Regions from separate parts of the Homo sapiens genome. Here all the other regions are linked to region 3. The links come from fine-mapping of genetic effects on gene expression. A gene starts in region 3. Each other region holds a variant in brackets. All regions are shown on one strand. Distances are from middle to middle. Region 1 overlaps LINC03061 (long intergenic non-protein coding RNA 3061). Region 2 overlaps MYO16 (myosin XVI). Region 3 holds the start of MYO16-AS1 (MYO16 antisense RNA 1).

Evidence for each region.
Region 1: its variant is fine-mapped to the expression of MYO16-AS1 in whole blood (INTERVAL, PIP above 0.99). The same link has a PIP of 0.9 or more in tibial nerve.
Region 2: its variant is fine-mapped to the expression of MYO16-AS1 in whole blood (TOPMed, PIP 0.94).

Annotation. Positions count from the first base shown.
Region 1 is chr13:109,266,101-109,272,325 of GRCh38, forward strand. LINC03061 (long intergenic non-protein coding RNA 3061) reads left to right here. Exons shown (of 2, transcript NR_185883.1): 2 at 1,511-4,975. LOC130494219 (a long non-coding RNA gene) reads left to right here and starts at 6,103. Exons shown (of 2, transcript NR_185888.1): 1 at 6,103-6,225. RefSeq lists enhancers at 1,171-2,129, 4,647-5,375. The variant G/A (reference allele first, on the strand shown) is at 2,956.
Region 2 is chr13:109,173,773-109,178,772 of GRCh38, forward strand. The region is part of intron 33 of MYO16 (myosin XVI); the gene reads left to right. Among named protein-coding and RNA genes, the nearest start is that of MYO16-AS1, 9.0 kb to the left of the region's middle. The variant CTCCAACACGATTGGAGTCT/C (reference allele first, on the strand shown) is at 2,045.
Region 3 is chr13:109,164,809-109,169,808 of GRCh38, forward strand. MYO16-AS1 (MYO16 antisense RNA 1) reads right to left here and starts at 2,495. Exons shown (of 3, transcript NR_047700.1): 1 at 2,211-2,495; 2 at 1,828-1,902. MYO16 (myosin XVI) reads left to right here. Exons shown (of 35, transcript NM_001198950.3): 33 at 93-251.

The DNA.
Region 1 (6,225 bases), 100 kb after region 3:
CCCTGCTTTTCTGGGGAAGGGGCAAGTACCCCAACCCCTTCTCTTCTTGTCTCTACCCCTTCTCTGATTTTCTGGGGCAGGGGCAAGAACCCCTCAACCCCTTCTCCTTCACCCTTAGTGGCAAGTCCCACTTTTCTGGGGGAGGGGAAAGTACCCCTCAACCCCTTCTCCTTCACCCTTAGTGGCAAGTCCCGCTTTTCTAGGGGGCAAGAACCCCCAATCCCTTATTTCCACACCCCGACCTCTTATTTCTGTGACCCAATCCCTTATTTCCACACCCCAACCTCTTATCTCTGTGCCCCAATCCCTTATTTCCATGCCCCAACCCCCCTTCCCACTTTTCTAGGGGGCAAGAACCCCCAATCCCTTATTTCCACACCCTGACCTCTTATCTCTGTGCCCCAATCCCTTATTTCTGTGCCCCAACCCTTTCTCTGCTTTTCTGGAGGGCAAGAAACCCCCACCCCTTCTCCGTGTCTCTACTCTTTTCTCTGGGCTTGCCTCCTTCACTATGGGCAAGCTTCCACCTTCCATTCCTCCTTCTTCTCCCTTAGCCTGTATTCTTAAGAACTTAAAACCTCTTCAACTCTCACCTGACCTAAAATCTAAGTGTCTCATTTTCTTCTGCAATGCCTCTTGACCCCAATACAAACTCTACAGTAGTTCCAAATAGCCGGAAAACGGCACTTTCAATTTTTCCATCCTACAAGATCTAAATAATTCTTGTCATAAAATGGGCAAATGGTCTGAGGTGCCTGACATCCAGGCATTCTTTTACACATCAGTCCCTTCCTAGTCTCTGTGCCCAGTGCAACTCATTCTGAATCTTCCTTCTTTCCCTCCCGCCTGTCCCCTCAGTCCCAACCCCAAGCGTCACTGAGTCTTTCTAATCTTCCTTTTCTACAGACCCATCTGACCTCTCCCCTCCTTGCCAGGCCAAGCTAGGTCCCAATTCTTCCTCAGCCTCCGCTCCTCCACCCTGTAATCTTTTTATCGCCTCCCCTCCTCACACCTGGTCTGGCTTACAGTTTCGTTCTGTGACTAGCCCTCCCCCACCTGCCCAGCAATTTACTCTTAAAAAGGTGGCTGGAGCCAAAGGCATAGTCAAGGTTAATGCTCCTTTTTCTTTATCCCAAATCAGAAGCGTTTAGGCTCTTTTTCATCAAATATAAAAACCCAGCCCAGTTCATGTCTCGTTCGGCAGCAACCCTGAGATGCTTTACAGCCCTAGACCCTAAAAGGTCAAAAGGCCATCTTATTCTCAATACACATTTTATTACCCAATCTGCTCCCGACATTAAATAAAACTCCAAAAATTAGAATCTGGCCCTCAAACCCCACAACAGGACTTAATTAACCTCACCTTCAAGGTGTACAATAATAAAAAAAAGGAAGTTGCAATTCCTTGCCTCCACTGTGAGACAAACCCCAGCCACATCTCCAGCACACAACAACTTCCAAATGCCTGAACCGCAGTGGCCAGACATTCCTCCAGAACCTCCTCCCCCAGGAGCTTGCTGCAAGTGCCAGAAATCTGACCACCAGGGCAAGGAATGCCTGCAGCCCAGGGATTCCTCCTAAGCCATGTCCCATCTGTGCGGGACCCCACTGGAAATCGGACTGTTCAACTCACCTGGCAGCCACTCCCAGCGCCCCTGGAACTCTGGCCCAAGGCTCTCTGACTGACTCCTTCTTGGCTTAGTGGCTGAAGACTGACGCTGCCTGATCGCCTCAGAAGCCCTGTAGACCACCATGGACACCGAGCTTTAGGTAACTCTCACAGTGGAGGGTAAGTCTGTCCCCTTCTTAATCAATATGGAGGCTACCCACTCCACATTACCTTCTTTTCAAGGGCCTGTTTCCCTTGCCTCCATAACTGTTGTGGGTATTGACAGCCAGGCTTCTAAACCTCTTAAAACTCCCCAACTCTGGTGCCAACTTGAACAACACTCTTTTATGCACTCTTTTTTAGTTATCTCCACCTGCCCAGTTCCCTTATCAGGCCGAGATATTTTAACCAAATTATCTGCTTCCCTGACTATTCCTGGACTACAGCTGCATCTCATTGCTGCCCTTCTTCCCAATCCAAAGCCTCCTTTGCGTCCTCCTCTTGTATTCCCCCACCTTAACCCACAAGTATAAGATACCTCTACTCCCTCCTTGGCGACCGATCATGCACCCCTTACCATCTCATTAAAACCTAATCACGCTTACCCGACTCAATGCCAATATCCCATCCCACAGCATGCTTTGAAAGGATTAAAGCCTGTTATCACTCACCTGCTACAGCATGGCCTTTTAAAGCCTATAAACTCTCCTTACAATTCCCCCGTTTTACCTGTCCTAAAACCAGACAAGGCTTACAACTTAGTTCAGAATCTGTGCCTTATCAACCAAATTGTTTTGCCTATCCACCCCGTGGTGCCAAACCCATATACTCTCCTATCCTCAATACCTCCCTCTACTACCCATTATTCTGTTCTGGATCTCAAACATGCTTTCTTTACTATTCCTTTGCACTCTTCATCTCAGCCTCTCTTTGCCTTCACTTAGACTGACCCTGACACCCATTAGGCTCAGCAGCTTACCTGGGCTGTGCTGCCGCAAGGTTCCAGGGACAGCCCTCATTACTTCAGCCAAGCTCTTTCTCATGATCTACTTTCTTTCCACCCCTCCACTTCTCACCTTATTCAATATATTGATGACCTTCTTCTTTGTAGCCCCTCCTTTGAATCTTCTCAACAAGACATACTTCTGCTCCTTCAGCATTTATTCTCCAAAGGATATCGGGTATCCCCCTCCAAAGCTCAAATTTCTTCTCCATCCGTTACCTACCTCGGCATAATTCTTCACAAAAACACAGGTGCTCTCCCTGCTGATGGTGTCTGATTAATCTCCCAAACCTCAATCCCTTACAAAACAACAACTCCTTTCCTTCCTAGGCATGGTTAGTGC[G/A]GTCAGAATTCTTACACAAGAGCCAGGACCCCACCCTGTAGCCTTTCTGTCCAAACAACTTGACCTTACTGTTTTAGCCTAGCCCTCATGTCTGCATGCAGCAGCTGCCGCTGCTTTAATAATTTTAGAGGCCCTAAAAATCACAAACTATGTTCAACTCACTCTCTACATTTCTCATAACTTCCAAAATCTATTTTCTTCCTCATACCTGACGCATATACTTTCTGCTCCCCGGCTCCTTCAGCTGTACTCATTCTTTGTTAAGTCCCACAATTACCATTGTTCCTGGCCCAGACTTCAATCTGGCCTCCCACATTATTCCTGATACCACACCTGATCCCCATGACTGCATCTCTCTGATCCACCTGACATTCACCCCATTTCCCCATATTACAAGCCACTAGCCCATCTCTTAGAACCTCTCATTTCCTTTCCATTGTAGAAATCTATCCTCAAGGAAATAACTTCTCAGTGTTCCATCTGCTATTCTATCTGCTATTCTGCTACTCCTCAAGGATCATTCAGGCCCCTCCCTTCCCTACACATCAAGCTCGAGGATTTGCCCCCGCCCAGGACTGGCAAATTAGCTTTACTCCACATGCCCCGAGTCACAAAAACTAAAATACCTCTTAGTCTAAGTAGACATTTTCACTAGATAGGTAGAGGCCTTTCCTACAGGGTCTGAGAAGGCCACCGCAGTCATTTCTTCCCTTCTGTCAGACATAATTCCTCAGTTTAGCCTTCCCACCTCTATACAGTCTGATAACAGACCAGGCTTTATTAGTCAAATTAGCCAAGCAGTTTTTCAGTTTATATCCCTTATAGTCCTCTGTCTTCAAGAAAAGTAGAACGGACTAAAGGTCTTTTAAAAACACACCTCACCAAGCTCAGCCACCAACTTAAAAAGAACTGGACAATACTTTTACCACTTTCCCTTCTCAGAAGTCAGACCTGTCCTCAGAATGCTACAAGGTACAGTCCATTTAAGCTCCTTTTTATTAGGCCCCAGTCTCATCCCAGACACCAGACCAACTTAGACTGTGCCCCCAAAAAAACTTGTCATCCCTACTATTTTCCGTCTAGTCATACTCCTATTCTCCGTTCTCAACTACTCATACATGCCCTGCTCTTGTTTACACTGCCAGTTTACACTGTTTCTCCAAGCCATCATGGCTGATATCTCCTCATGCTATCCCCAAACTGCCACTCTTAACTCTTGAAGTAAATAAATAATCTTCGCTGGAAGGACTATGCTGAACCTCCTTAGGCATTCTCTAATTAGATGTCCTAGATCCTCCCAATTCTTAGTCCTTTTATACCTGTTTTTCTCCTTCTCTTATTCCATTTAGTTTTTCAGTTCATACAAAACCGTATCCAGGCCATCACCAATCTTTCTGTATGACAAATGTTTCTTCTAACAACCCCCTCAATGTCACCCCTTACCACAAGACCTCCCTTCAGCTTAATCTCTCCCACTCTAGGTTCCCACGCCGCCCCTAATCCCGCTTGAAGCAGCCCTGAGAAACATCGCCCATTCTCTCTCCATACCACCCCCCAAAAATTTTCACCGCCCCAACACTTCAACACAATTTTGTTTTATTTTTCTTATTAATATAAGAAGGCAGGAATGTCAGGCCTCTGAGCCCAAGCCAAGCCATCGCATCCCCTGTGACTTGCACGTATACGCCCAGATGGCCTGAAGTAACTGAAGAATCACAAAAGAACTGAAAAGGCCCTGCCCCGCCTTAACTGATGACATTCCACCATGGTGATTTGTTCTTGCCCCACCTTAACTGAGTGATTAACCCTGTGAATTTCCTTCTCCTGGCTCAGAAGCTCCCCCACTGAGCACCTTGTGACCCCCGCCCCTGCCCACCAGAGAACAACCCCCTTTGACTGTAATTTTCCATTACCTTCCCAAATCCTATAAAACGGCCCCACCCCTATCTCCCTTCGCTGACTCTCTTTTCGGACTCAGCCCGCCTGCCCCCAGGTGAAATAAACAGCCATGTTGCTCACACAAAGCCTGTTTGGTGTCTCTTCACACGGACGCGCATGAAAAAAACCCTTTCATTTTACTGTGGGACGGCAACCCTTTCTGGGACCCCTCTCTGCAGCAGAGAACTGTTCTCTTTCTTTCACCTGTTAAACTTCTGCTTCTGCTCTGACCTCGTCCTTGGTGTGTCTGCATCGTCGATTTCCTCAGCTGTGAGACCAACGACTTGGGCACCCACCCAGGCAACAAGGCCTTTTCAGTAAGGGAAGTGGTAAAATGTTTTCAATCCCTGTTGCCAAAAATCGGCCTAAGGCTTCCCAAAAAAAGTAACCCAAAGCAGACATGGCAAATATTTGCTACATTTGATAATAAGCCAATAAATTATCTGCTAATAAGTGACTGAAATATTTAGCACACATCTGCCTTATTCTGATGACTGATCACATTTCTAGCTCCCCTGTGGACTAAAACAATATGCTTTCCTTCTCTACACAAGCAATGCTTTCTGCAGAGACACAAACTTTACATCTGAATACAAATGCAGCACGTTTTAATTCTGCCTCTCATTCTCCAGCAAAATCATGGGGAAGAAGGAAAACATCCTTAGTCAAAAGGGGTACAGGGACTTAGAACCTCACCATGCTGCAGTCACACAGGCAATAGAGAAAGATGGCGGTGGTTCCCTGGGGCAGTTCCCCTCTCAAGCAAGGAGACAGGGGCAGCACTCCTACCATCTCCCCAGGGATATAGGAGTTAAGAAGGAATTGCTTAGGCAGATAGCAAGGGCATGGGAGTCCTGGGTAAGGCTTTTCTTTTTAATGAAAAGCAGCCCCAAGTCATTTTCTAACAAAGAGCAGCCTGCAAGCTGGGAGCTTGCATAGGTGAATGCCAGCAGGAACTAAGGACTAGACATTTTCAAACTGGTGGCTCCATCTTCCCTTCCCTGCCAGCCAAGTGTATTGTAAGGAGCAGAGAAGATGGCTCTGATCAACTGGAAAGCCTATTTGCATAATTAGATTAGGGTGGGGCAACCAGCCTTCCCCCGCACACTATGTAGACGTCATACCTGATGGAACCAGTCTGTGAGCCCTATGTAAATCAGACACCGCCTTCTCCAACTTATTATATCTGTTTTGGTCCACTGCCTCCCCACTTTTCAGATGTCTCTCTCTCTCTCTCTCTCTAAGAGCTGCTCTCCTCTCTCCTTTCTTCTATCTATTAAATTTTCCACTCCCTAACCCACCCACATGTGATTGTGTCCTGAATTCTTGGTG
Region 2 (5,000 bases), 9.0 kb after region 3:
TAGTCCCAGCTACTTGGGAGGCTGAGGCAGGAGTGAACCTGGGAGGCAGAGCTTGCAGTGAGCCGAGATCGCGCCACTGCGCTCCAGCCTGGGTGACAGAGCGAGACTCCATCTCAAAAAAAAAAAAAAAAAAAAAAAAAAAGAGTATCTCTGAAAGGGTTGTCCTTGTTTTGATGGGGGGGGGTACTCTCTGCTGTTTTGGAAAAGTGTACCTGATTGTACTATCCAGGGTGAACAATAGAATTGGAAACTGAGTTTGGGGGTGCCAGTTTTGAATTCATTCACTACTTAAGCCTTGGCAGGTTTTGTACATGAAGCAAGAGTATTAAAGACTGTATTGGTGTAGGAGTCAAGAAGAGGAAGGTGTCAAGAACGACTCCAAGAATTTGAGGCAAATGATGGGAGAATACAGCACTCTTAAGAAGGGAAGGGCAATTCCCAAAGGAGGTTAATTCTATAAGCGGATTTGGAGCTCAAGAGAAAAGGACTTCTGATTATGGATGATTTTTCCATAAATGATGATGACAGGTTTGGAGTTTAGGCCAGGGTTCCAGGATAGAAAGAGAAAAGCCAGAATTTTTAAAGAAGCTGGAGACATGGTGGTTATTTATAGCATCAGAGGAACAATCATAAAGAGAAATAAGAAAAGAAATATGACCACTAAACCACTCAGAATGCCAAAGTTTGAGAAATTTACATTGAGAAGGGGGGAAATGGAGACATACAATAGGTGCTCAAGAGATAGAAGACAGATGTCCAATTTCATGGAAATCAAGAGGGTAGTGGATTTAAAGGTGATGGAATACTTGGAAAGCTGGACAGATGTAAAAAGAGAATTCAAACCCTCTTGCCATTGACTAAACAAGTTTGGGTCCCTACAAAATGACAGATTTGACTAATAGATTCTAACCGGTCAGCCATGTAAAATTCAGTGCCATACCCCCCTTGAAAGTCTCTTTCTCATTCTTGTCTTGTCTTTTTTTTTTTTTTTTTTTTTGAGATGGAGTCTTGCTCTGTCGCCCAGGCTGGAGTGCAGTGGCACAATCTCAACTCACTGCAAACTCCGCCTCCCAGGTTCAAGTGATTCTTCAGCCTCAGCCTCCCGAGTAGCTGGGACTACAGGCGCATGCCACCACATTTTTTTTTTTGTATTTTTTTTAGTAGAGGCAGGGTTTCACCGTGTTAGCCAGAATGGTCTTGATCTGCTGACCTCGTGATCTGCCCGCCTCAGCCTCTCAAAGTGCTGGTATTACAGGCGTGAGCCACTGCACCCAGCCCTCATTCTTTTCTTTTTATAAGAATTTACATGAACCCACTACGCTCTGCATGTAGACCTCATGGCCCCAGAGTCTGCCACTTTTCAAAATTACTTCTTTAAAAATCACACAGAACTCCAGGGACCAGGTCTACACCACAGTGATGAGGAGGATGTCCTAAAAGCCATTCCTCTTTGTGTCCTGCAGGAAGGTTTAACTTTCAGTGCTCTGAGCAGCCTCCAATTCAGGAGGAGAGGGAGAACAGAGGCTGCTTCTTCCTGCTAAACCTTCAATCAAGGCCAAAGCCTTTTCGACTTTTGCCCACCCAAGTTTGAAGGAGCAGCAGCAGGTTCTATGGAGTGTCCACAGCATATCCATTATGCCATGGAGATCAGCTTTGGGGAATTCCTTCCCCTGAACATCTGCATGTTTTCTTTGAGCAGAAGAGCTGGCTATCTGGAGGGTAGAGTAGGGTGGACGCAGTTTCAGAAGACCTTGATTTGCTGTCATTTGGGCAAGAATGGCTTTTTGAAATAGTTTGGTATCATAATGGACCAAAAGCTCAACTTTTTGAAGCACACTATTGCCCTGGAAAGAATGTGTTCAGCAAGGGACACATGAATCTCTAAGCTGGGAATTGTTAACTCCAAGCCTGGTCTGGGGAGAAGGCTGCTACAGTAAGAGGAGCAGTGGGGGCTTCTCAGAATGTGCAGAAGCTCCTTCTCAGACAGAATTCCACCTTTTAATGAAGGCACAGATAAAGAGCTCCATCTTCACTTTAAATGTTC[CTCCAACACGATTGGAGTCT/C]TCACCCTGGTTAAAATGCGCCGTGGGATTCTCTACCCACGCAGGACTGTGGGACTTTTCTGGAGGCCTTTGCTTAGCAATGTTCCCTTTAGCTGCGTGAGAAAATCCTTGCTATGTTAAAAAAAAAAAAGTTCTTGTCAGTTAAGGACACATGTACAAACATTTACAGCTGAAATGACATGATTTCTGGGATTTAAGTGAAAAATGAATAAAAAATGGATAAAAATGGATAAAATTGACAGCCCCAAGGCTTGGAATGGGTGCATGGAGTTTCACTGCATATTCTCTTTATGTCTGAAATGTTTGTAATAAAAAGTTTTAAAACTGTGTTATTTTGATAGATAGAATGAATGTTACGTAGTCTCATATCCATTACTTGGAATTCTTAATGAAATTGAATATGTGTATTACTTATTAGCCATTCATATTTTCATATTTTTTCTCCTTTATTTTCTAAACTTTTATTCTTTGTCCATTTTTTAATATCTGGGATCTGTAGGATGTTTGAAGAATTAAAAAAGCCTCTTATTTAATATATTTCAATGTTCTACATTGTTCTTTTAAAATACACATTTTATTTTTAGGGCATTGTCAATATGTTTATTTTTAATGTTTATAGAGAGACATGAATCCGTTTTCTTTTTTTTTATTCATGGTTTGTGCGTTTGGTGTCATTTTAAAATAATTTGCCTTAAAAAGGTACTGCTTCTAATACGGCAGCTAAATAAAATATTGTGCTGGTAAAAAAAAAAAAAAAAAAAAAAAAGACCTCCTTTGCACCTTTGGCGCTTCCTGGCCGTCACTTTGTCCCTTCCAGTTCTCAAAATGTTACTGCGTTGGCCGTGATGAGGACCCTTGGCCTGTTTGCTACAACCTTCAAAAAATCCCCTTCCCTCTGACTTCTCGGGCCCAGTCGCTTGTCCCACCCCCTCCTCCACATGCCCGTCTCCCCCAGCACCCACTCACCTGCCTCCCTCCCCGCTGTCCTCACCTGGCCCTCCACCTGCATGCGACCACCTGCCCAAGCTGCCATATGTCCCTGTCTGTGGAGCCCTGACACAGGTTCTGGGACCCATTCTTTCTTTAGTCAACAGTTATGAATGAAATACCTTTGAACTCATTACTTAGATAAAATGGTGTCACTTCTCTTCTGGGAAGTCTGCAGTGCTACCTATCGTCTCCAAAGTGTGGTCACATTTCCGCGAAGCGTCCTTGTGTTTTGTTGCCTTATCACATTTGTGCTCTCAGCCAGGCATGTCCTTCTCGACTTTGTTCGCCCTCCACAATTCTCCTCCTCCTCGAAGGCCCAGGTCCTTTAGCAACACCACCATGAAGTTTACTCTAGTCCGTTCCATCAGAATGCATCCTTACCTTCTCCAAGACCCTGTTCAACGTGACCTGTACTCCTCTTAATCCTGAAATCATGCTGCTGTGTGTTTGGCCTCAGTGCCATTCTCACTGAATTGACTTTCTCAAGGGTGGGGACTTTTCTTCGTTCTTCCTTGTATTTCTCAGCGCCTTATGCAGCGGTTGCTCATAAATGTTTTTAACCTTAATTTAATTGACTCTATGCAGTGCTCAGCAGGCTATCGATTCCGCTCTGAGCTTATACCCTTTCAACTGAGTTTCTGTTTTGATTCTGAGATCCAACTTCTAATTTTATGTATTTATTTATTTATTTATTATTTATTTATTTATGTTGAGATGGAGTCTCACTCTGTCACCCAGGCTGGGGTGCAATGGAGCAACCTTGGCTCACTGCAACTCTCCCTCCCAGGTTCAAGCGATTCTCCTGCCTCAGCCTCCTGAGTAGCTGAGACTACAGGTGTGCACCACCGTGCCCGGGTAATTTTGTATTTTTAGTAGAGATGGGATTTCACCGTGTTGGCTGGGCTGGTCTCGATCTCCTGACCTCAGGTGATCCGCCACCTTAGCCTCCCAAAGTACTGGGATTACAGGCGTGAGCCAGTGCACCCAGCCCCGACTTCTAATTTATAATTTAGGTTTGAAAAATGGATCACATTTGTCTTCTCCTGCCACAGATCCCCTGTCTTAGTAAGACATCTGGTGAACTGGTTTCTTTATGGTTCCTATAGAAGTGAAGGTTTATCTTGCTTATCAATCAGCCCCTTCCTCCCAGCACCCCATCCTTTATTCCCCTCTAAGAGGTGGTCCTTCACATGAATCCCAAGCCCTTTGTTGTGCCCTACTACCCGGAAACACATTTTTTTTCCAACTATCTGCTTTATCTAGTTTCCTGAAATTTCATATTGTGCCTGATCTTGGATTGACACACTCCCTTCCGCCTGTGTGAATTTCAGGCTGCTCTGACACTCACTGTGATTGGAGCCTTTCCTGTGTCCTGCCACCACAGTGTCTAAGGACACTATTGCCACGTAGCACCTGAGGCTACTGCTGCTGCCTGTGGCCGAGATCTGTTCTCCAGCAAGAGACCCCCCCCACCCACTAGCCATTGTCCGCCCAGTCTTCATGAAGTTAGCTTTTCCATACCAAGGTATCTGGACATGTAACAAGATCACCTGGAAGGCCTTGTTGTGTGTTGACAGGATTGTGTCGACTTCCCTGAGGAACTCTCTCCTATAATTGGAAAAGCGTGCACTGATTGTCTAATGATTTTTAATTTAGGAATTATGTATATGTTTAATCAATTACCTGTGCTAGTTAATTATGCTTTCAGAGGAGAGTAGTAATCACTTCAGTATTTAAAGTTCTCTGAGTTGAATTCATTTTGTTGGGTTCTTATTTCTCTTTTTGTCTATTCATGTTTATTAATCGAAGTCACTTGCGGTGATGCATTGCGCCTGTATCACAGTGATTCTCAGCCCGTGTAGGAGGGGATGACTTTGCCCTCCAAGGAACTTTTGGCAATGTCTGGGAACATTTCTGGGTGCCACAAATGGGGGTGCTGCTGGCATC
Region 3 (5,000 bases):
TTTGATGTTTTATTATTTTCTCCAAATGTTTTATTCAGTATATTCAGTACATGTTATCAGAAAATAATTATGTTTTCTAAAATTTATTTTAGGTTTTGAAACTAACATGAACATAAGTAGCCGAGATGACCCTAGTACGTCAGAAATTACTTCCGAGACTCAAGACAGAAATGCAAATAACCATGGAATTCAGTTATCTAATTCACTATCTAGTGCTATAACTGCTGAAAATGGAAATTCCATCTCAAATGGTAAGCACTTTTTAAACTCAGAAGTAAATGTACAAAAGTTTTAGGCTGTATCAACTTTCTGGGAGGAATGGATTTAAAATATGAAAATGAAGTAGGGTTAAGAACTGGAAAATAGAATATAAACCATGAAACTCCCCTGCAAGTATTATTGTCAGCATATGATTGCTTCAGTTAAAGAATTGGAATTCTATTCACTCCTTGTTGACTTTTCCGAAATTTTATGGAGTGTTAATCTAAAAGAACTGGTCCAAAATTAGTCTTATACTGAGCAGAAGAAGGCAATAGATTCTCTACCAATATTTTTAATTAAAAAATTATTCTGGAAACTAAGAAATGTGAAGGAAAATAATATTAAAGAAATGATAAGTGCCAGACTGGCTTCAGGTATTTTAAGTACATCAATGAGTGCCACATTTAGAAAGTGGCTTGATTGCAGGTACAAAAGCTGAGGATCACGCAAGTATTTTCTCTCACAAATAAAAGAAGACAAAGGCGTCTGGGAATAACTGATGGGAAGACTCAGACCAACTATTCCTGAGGGCCTCCCGCAGGGCTGGGAAAAGCATGTTTGTTTAGTCTAATTAGAGGCGTGGGAGAACCATCATGATGCTGAAATGCTGGGAAGCAGTTGAAGACCTGGGAGTGGGGTGCAAGGTGAGCCGAAGCAAGGAAGCCCACACTTGAAGCTTGGCTCATGGGGACATAAGGGTACCCACATTGTTCAGAGAAGGCAGCTAAGAAGTCAAGTTGTGCTTCTGACTGCCTTCTCAAATTACAGGGCAAGAAACTGAGTCGTGGCCCCACCAAGGCCTTGGGGTGGGGCCTTCAAGTGTTCTTCCCAAGAGTCAGAGTGAACCAGAACCAAGAACCATGTTGAGTTGCCCAGATGTAACCAGGCCTACAGGTACCTGGGAGAAACACGTGTACATTTTCCCCAAAGGGCAGTAATAGCATCCTAGGCTTCAAAACATTCATAGAAACCATTTTTCAAATGCAAAGTCCAACACAGTTAGAAATAACCAGGCATAGGAGCACACAAAATAAGATAAAAAATTAAAAGCAGAGACGGCAGCCAATTGCAATATGTCCACAGGGATTCAAAAGGTTGGAATTCAAAGACACATGCCTTAAAATAAGTATGTTTACTCAGCCCCCCACGAAATAAAACAACGAGAATTTCAGCAGAAATAGGAAACTATAAGGAAATCGTCAAATGGAAATTCTGAAATTGGAAAATGCAGTAATAAAATTGAGTACAACAGAGGATAAAGTTAAATTTAATTAGATATAGTTGTTTAAAAACAAAACAAATAAAAAATAACTGGAGAAGTGGAAGATAACTCAGAAAATCCCCAGAATGAAACAGATTGAAGCAAAAGGGAAGAATGGAAACTCCAGACAATGGTTTAGAGATATAAAGGGCAATGAGGAGGATGATTGAAGTCTTAGGGAAAGAAGAGGGAGCGCATGAGCAGAAGAAAGACTTGGTGAGAAATGTTAGAGCATCTCCCAATGCTGACGAAAGAGCACCAGGAAACAGATTTAAGTTGGCAGATTTTTATAACATTCAACATACATTCTTCACGGGATCCAGCAATCTGACTCCTCAGTATCTTCCCAAGAGAAATGACAGCAGTGTCCACACAAACACCTGTATGCAAATGCATATGGTGACATTATTCATAATCACATAAAACTGGAAATAAATTCAGTGTCTTTCAACTGATGACTGGCTTGTATTAGTGATCCATCACTGTGCAAAATATTACTCCCAAAACTTGGAGGCTTATATAAGAAATGGTTATTATTTCATAGTTTCTGTGGGCCAGGAAGCTGTGTGTGGCTTAGCAGGGTGCCTTTGGTTTAAGGTCCCCCATGAGACAGCAATCAAGCTGTCAGCCAAGACCACAGTCATCTTGAGACTTGAGTGAAGGCTGATCCATTTTCAAGGTCACTCACGTGGCTATTGGCAGGCCACAGAAGGTTCACATCCAAGTCAACTCACATGGGCAGCCTCCCAGCACAGCAGCTCTCCCCACATCCCTGAGCAAGCAATCCAAGAGAGAGCACCCCAGATGGAGGCTGCAGTCTTCACATAACCCAGTCTTGAAAATGACACCCCAGCACTCTGTCACGTTTGATTGAGTCACTAAATCCAGGCCACACTCAATGGGTGGGGAGTCCGTGAGTGCCTGGAGGTGGGCTCACCAGCATCTCACAGGCTGAACTAGCACATGGATGAAGCCTGCAATAAATAAGAGTGATCAACTATAATGAGCATCATAAAAAAAAGGGATGGCTAAAGCATTGTGTTGAGGTTAAAAAAAAAAAATCAAAAGACTAAGTGTGATCCTGCTTATGTAACATTTGGGGAAAAGCAAAGCTGGAGACAGAAAACAGCTGAGTGGTTGCTGGAGGCTGGGCGTAATGGCAGGAGATGAAGTTCAGAAGGACATGTGGTGTTATAGACAACCTGGAGTGCTCATGTCTGCAGATGCACAGATGTGTATGTCTAAAAAAGGTGAATCTCACTGTCTCTAAATTACACCATAATCAATCCAACGTTTGTAAAAATGAAACAGAAACCTTTGCAAAGCCTAAGTAGGATACATAAAACTTTCCTAGGTGTATCATAGTAAAACACCTATAAAATAAAGACCGAGAATTAATTTTAAAAGCAGTTAGAGGTAAAAATATGTACTATCTTCGAAAAGTAGCAACTGAAGTCCAAAGACAATGAAATAACATAGTTAACATGCTCAAATAAAATAACTGCCCCCCAAAAATTCCTGTAATAATGAAAGGGAGTTAAGGATATTTTTAGGAAAAAAAATAAAAATGAAAGGAATTAAACACTGACAGACTCAGAATGCTTAGAGATAAAGGAAAGAATAAAGAATAACTAAAAAGGCAGTAAAATTTGGAGGGGTAAAATAATATTTAATATTATACACTGATAAACCTACCTTGCCAGTTGTAACCTCAAAGGTAACCCCTGAAAGAATATTAGTGGGGTAGATAATATCCAAACTAGTAAAGAGAGAAAAATAAAATCATAAAAAGTCAACTCAAAAGATGCAAAAAGGGGATAAAATAGGAAAAATAGGGCAAGGAGAAAGTTCTGAGACAGTAGATATGAAAACACATGTGAAAATAAACTTTATTTAATTATAATAAACTTTAAAAGGCTTATTTAATGTAAACTTATATGAAAAATGATTAGCAGAATATTTTAAAAACTAAGTTTTCTGAAAACAGTAAAACATAAGGATTCTGAAAGAGTAAATGTAAAGGGATAGAAAAGAAAAAGATACAATGTGCAAATATTAAAAAGCAGCAAAAACAGTGCTCATATATTTGAACGTCAAAAATTACATCTCTAGGCCAGGCGCGGTGGCTCACGCCTGCAATCCCAGCACTTTGGGAGGCCGAGGCAGGCAGATCACCTGAGGTCAGGAGTTCGAGACCAGCCTGGCCAACATGGTGAAACCCCCATCTCTACTAAAAATACAAAAATCAGCTGGGCTTGGTGGTATATGCCTTTAATCCCGGCGACTCGGAAAGCTGAGGTAGGAGAATTGCTTGAACCCAGGAGGCGGAGTTTGCAGTGAGCCCTGATCGCGCCACTGCACTCCAGCCTGGGTGACAGAGCCAGACTTTGTCTAAAAAAATAAGATAAAATAAAATCTCTAAGTAATCAATGTATTCAAGAAGAAATCACAAAATAAATTAAAAAGCAAAATATTTTAACTAATGACAATGCAAATATGACAACAGAACTTTTAGGACATGTCTAATGTCTTTTGTGTATGAGTGGAAGGGGCTCGGGTACAGTGTCGGTATGGTCAATATGTGGCTGTATGGCATCGTGGCCATGGCTGGGCTTTTAGTGTCCACATCAACTGAATAGTATATATTGTCCTGATTAAGTCGTTTCATATGCTTCATTCCATCCCATCCTCCCACCTTGCCACCCTTCTGAGTCTCCAGTGTCTATTATTCCACACTCTGTGCCCAAGTGTACACGTTATTTAGCTCCCACTTATAAGTGAGAACATGTAGCATTTTTCTTTCTGTGTCTTAGTTATTTCACCTAAGATAATGGCCTCCAGTTCCATCCATGTTACTGCAAAAGATCTCTTAAGAAATGGAAATGTATGGCTTCAAACCTTTGCATCACAAGAGAACAAATACGATGAGTGTTAAAAGGGTCTAGAAATTAGAAACAGAACAAAAACTAAATACTATGAAAATGGAAGGAAAGATATGATAGTGATAATAAGAACATAAGTTATTGAAATATAAAACAAATAAAATAATGTGAAGGGATAGAAAGGAAGGAAAGAGAAAGTTGTTTATCTTTTAAAAAATTATCTTTGAAAACAATAAGATTGAAAATTTTCTTGCAAGGGGATAGAGAAATAGAGAAAATTGGCACAAATAACAGATTTTAGATTGAAAAGGGGACATCAATACAGATCTGGCTGAAATTAAAAATAGTAAGAGAATATTACAAACAGTTTTACACCAAGATAAATTTACAAATTTACATAAACAAATACATTCTTAAAAAAAAAAGAACTAACGAAAATGGACAAAAGAAGTAGGAAAGCTAAATAACACCGTAAATGTTAAATTAATGGAATTTGTAATTGAATGCCTTCCTACAAGGAAAATTCCAGAATCAGATGGTTTCTCCACTAAATGTTTCCAAAATTCTAAGGATTAAATAACTCCAATGTCACGTAC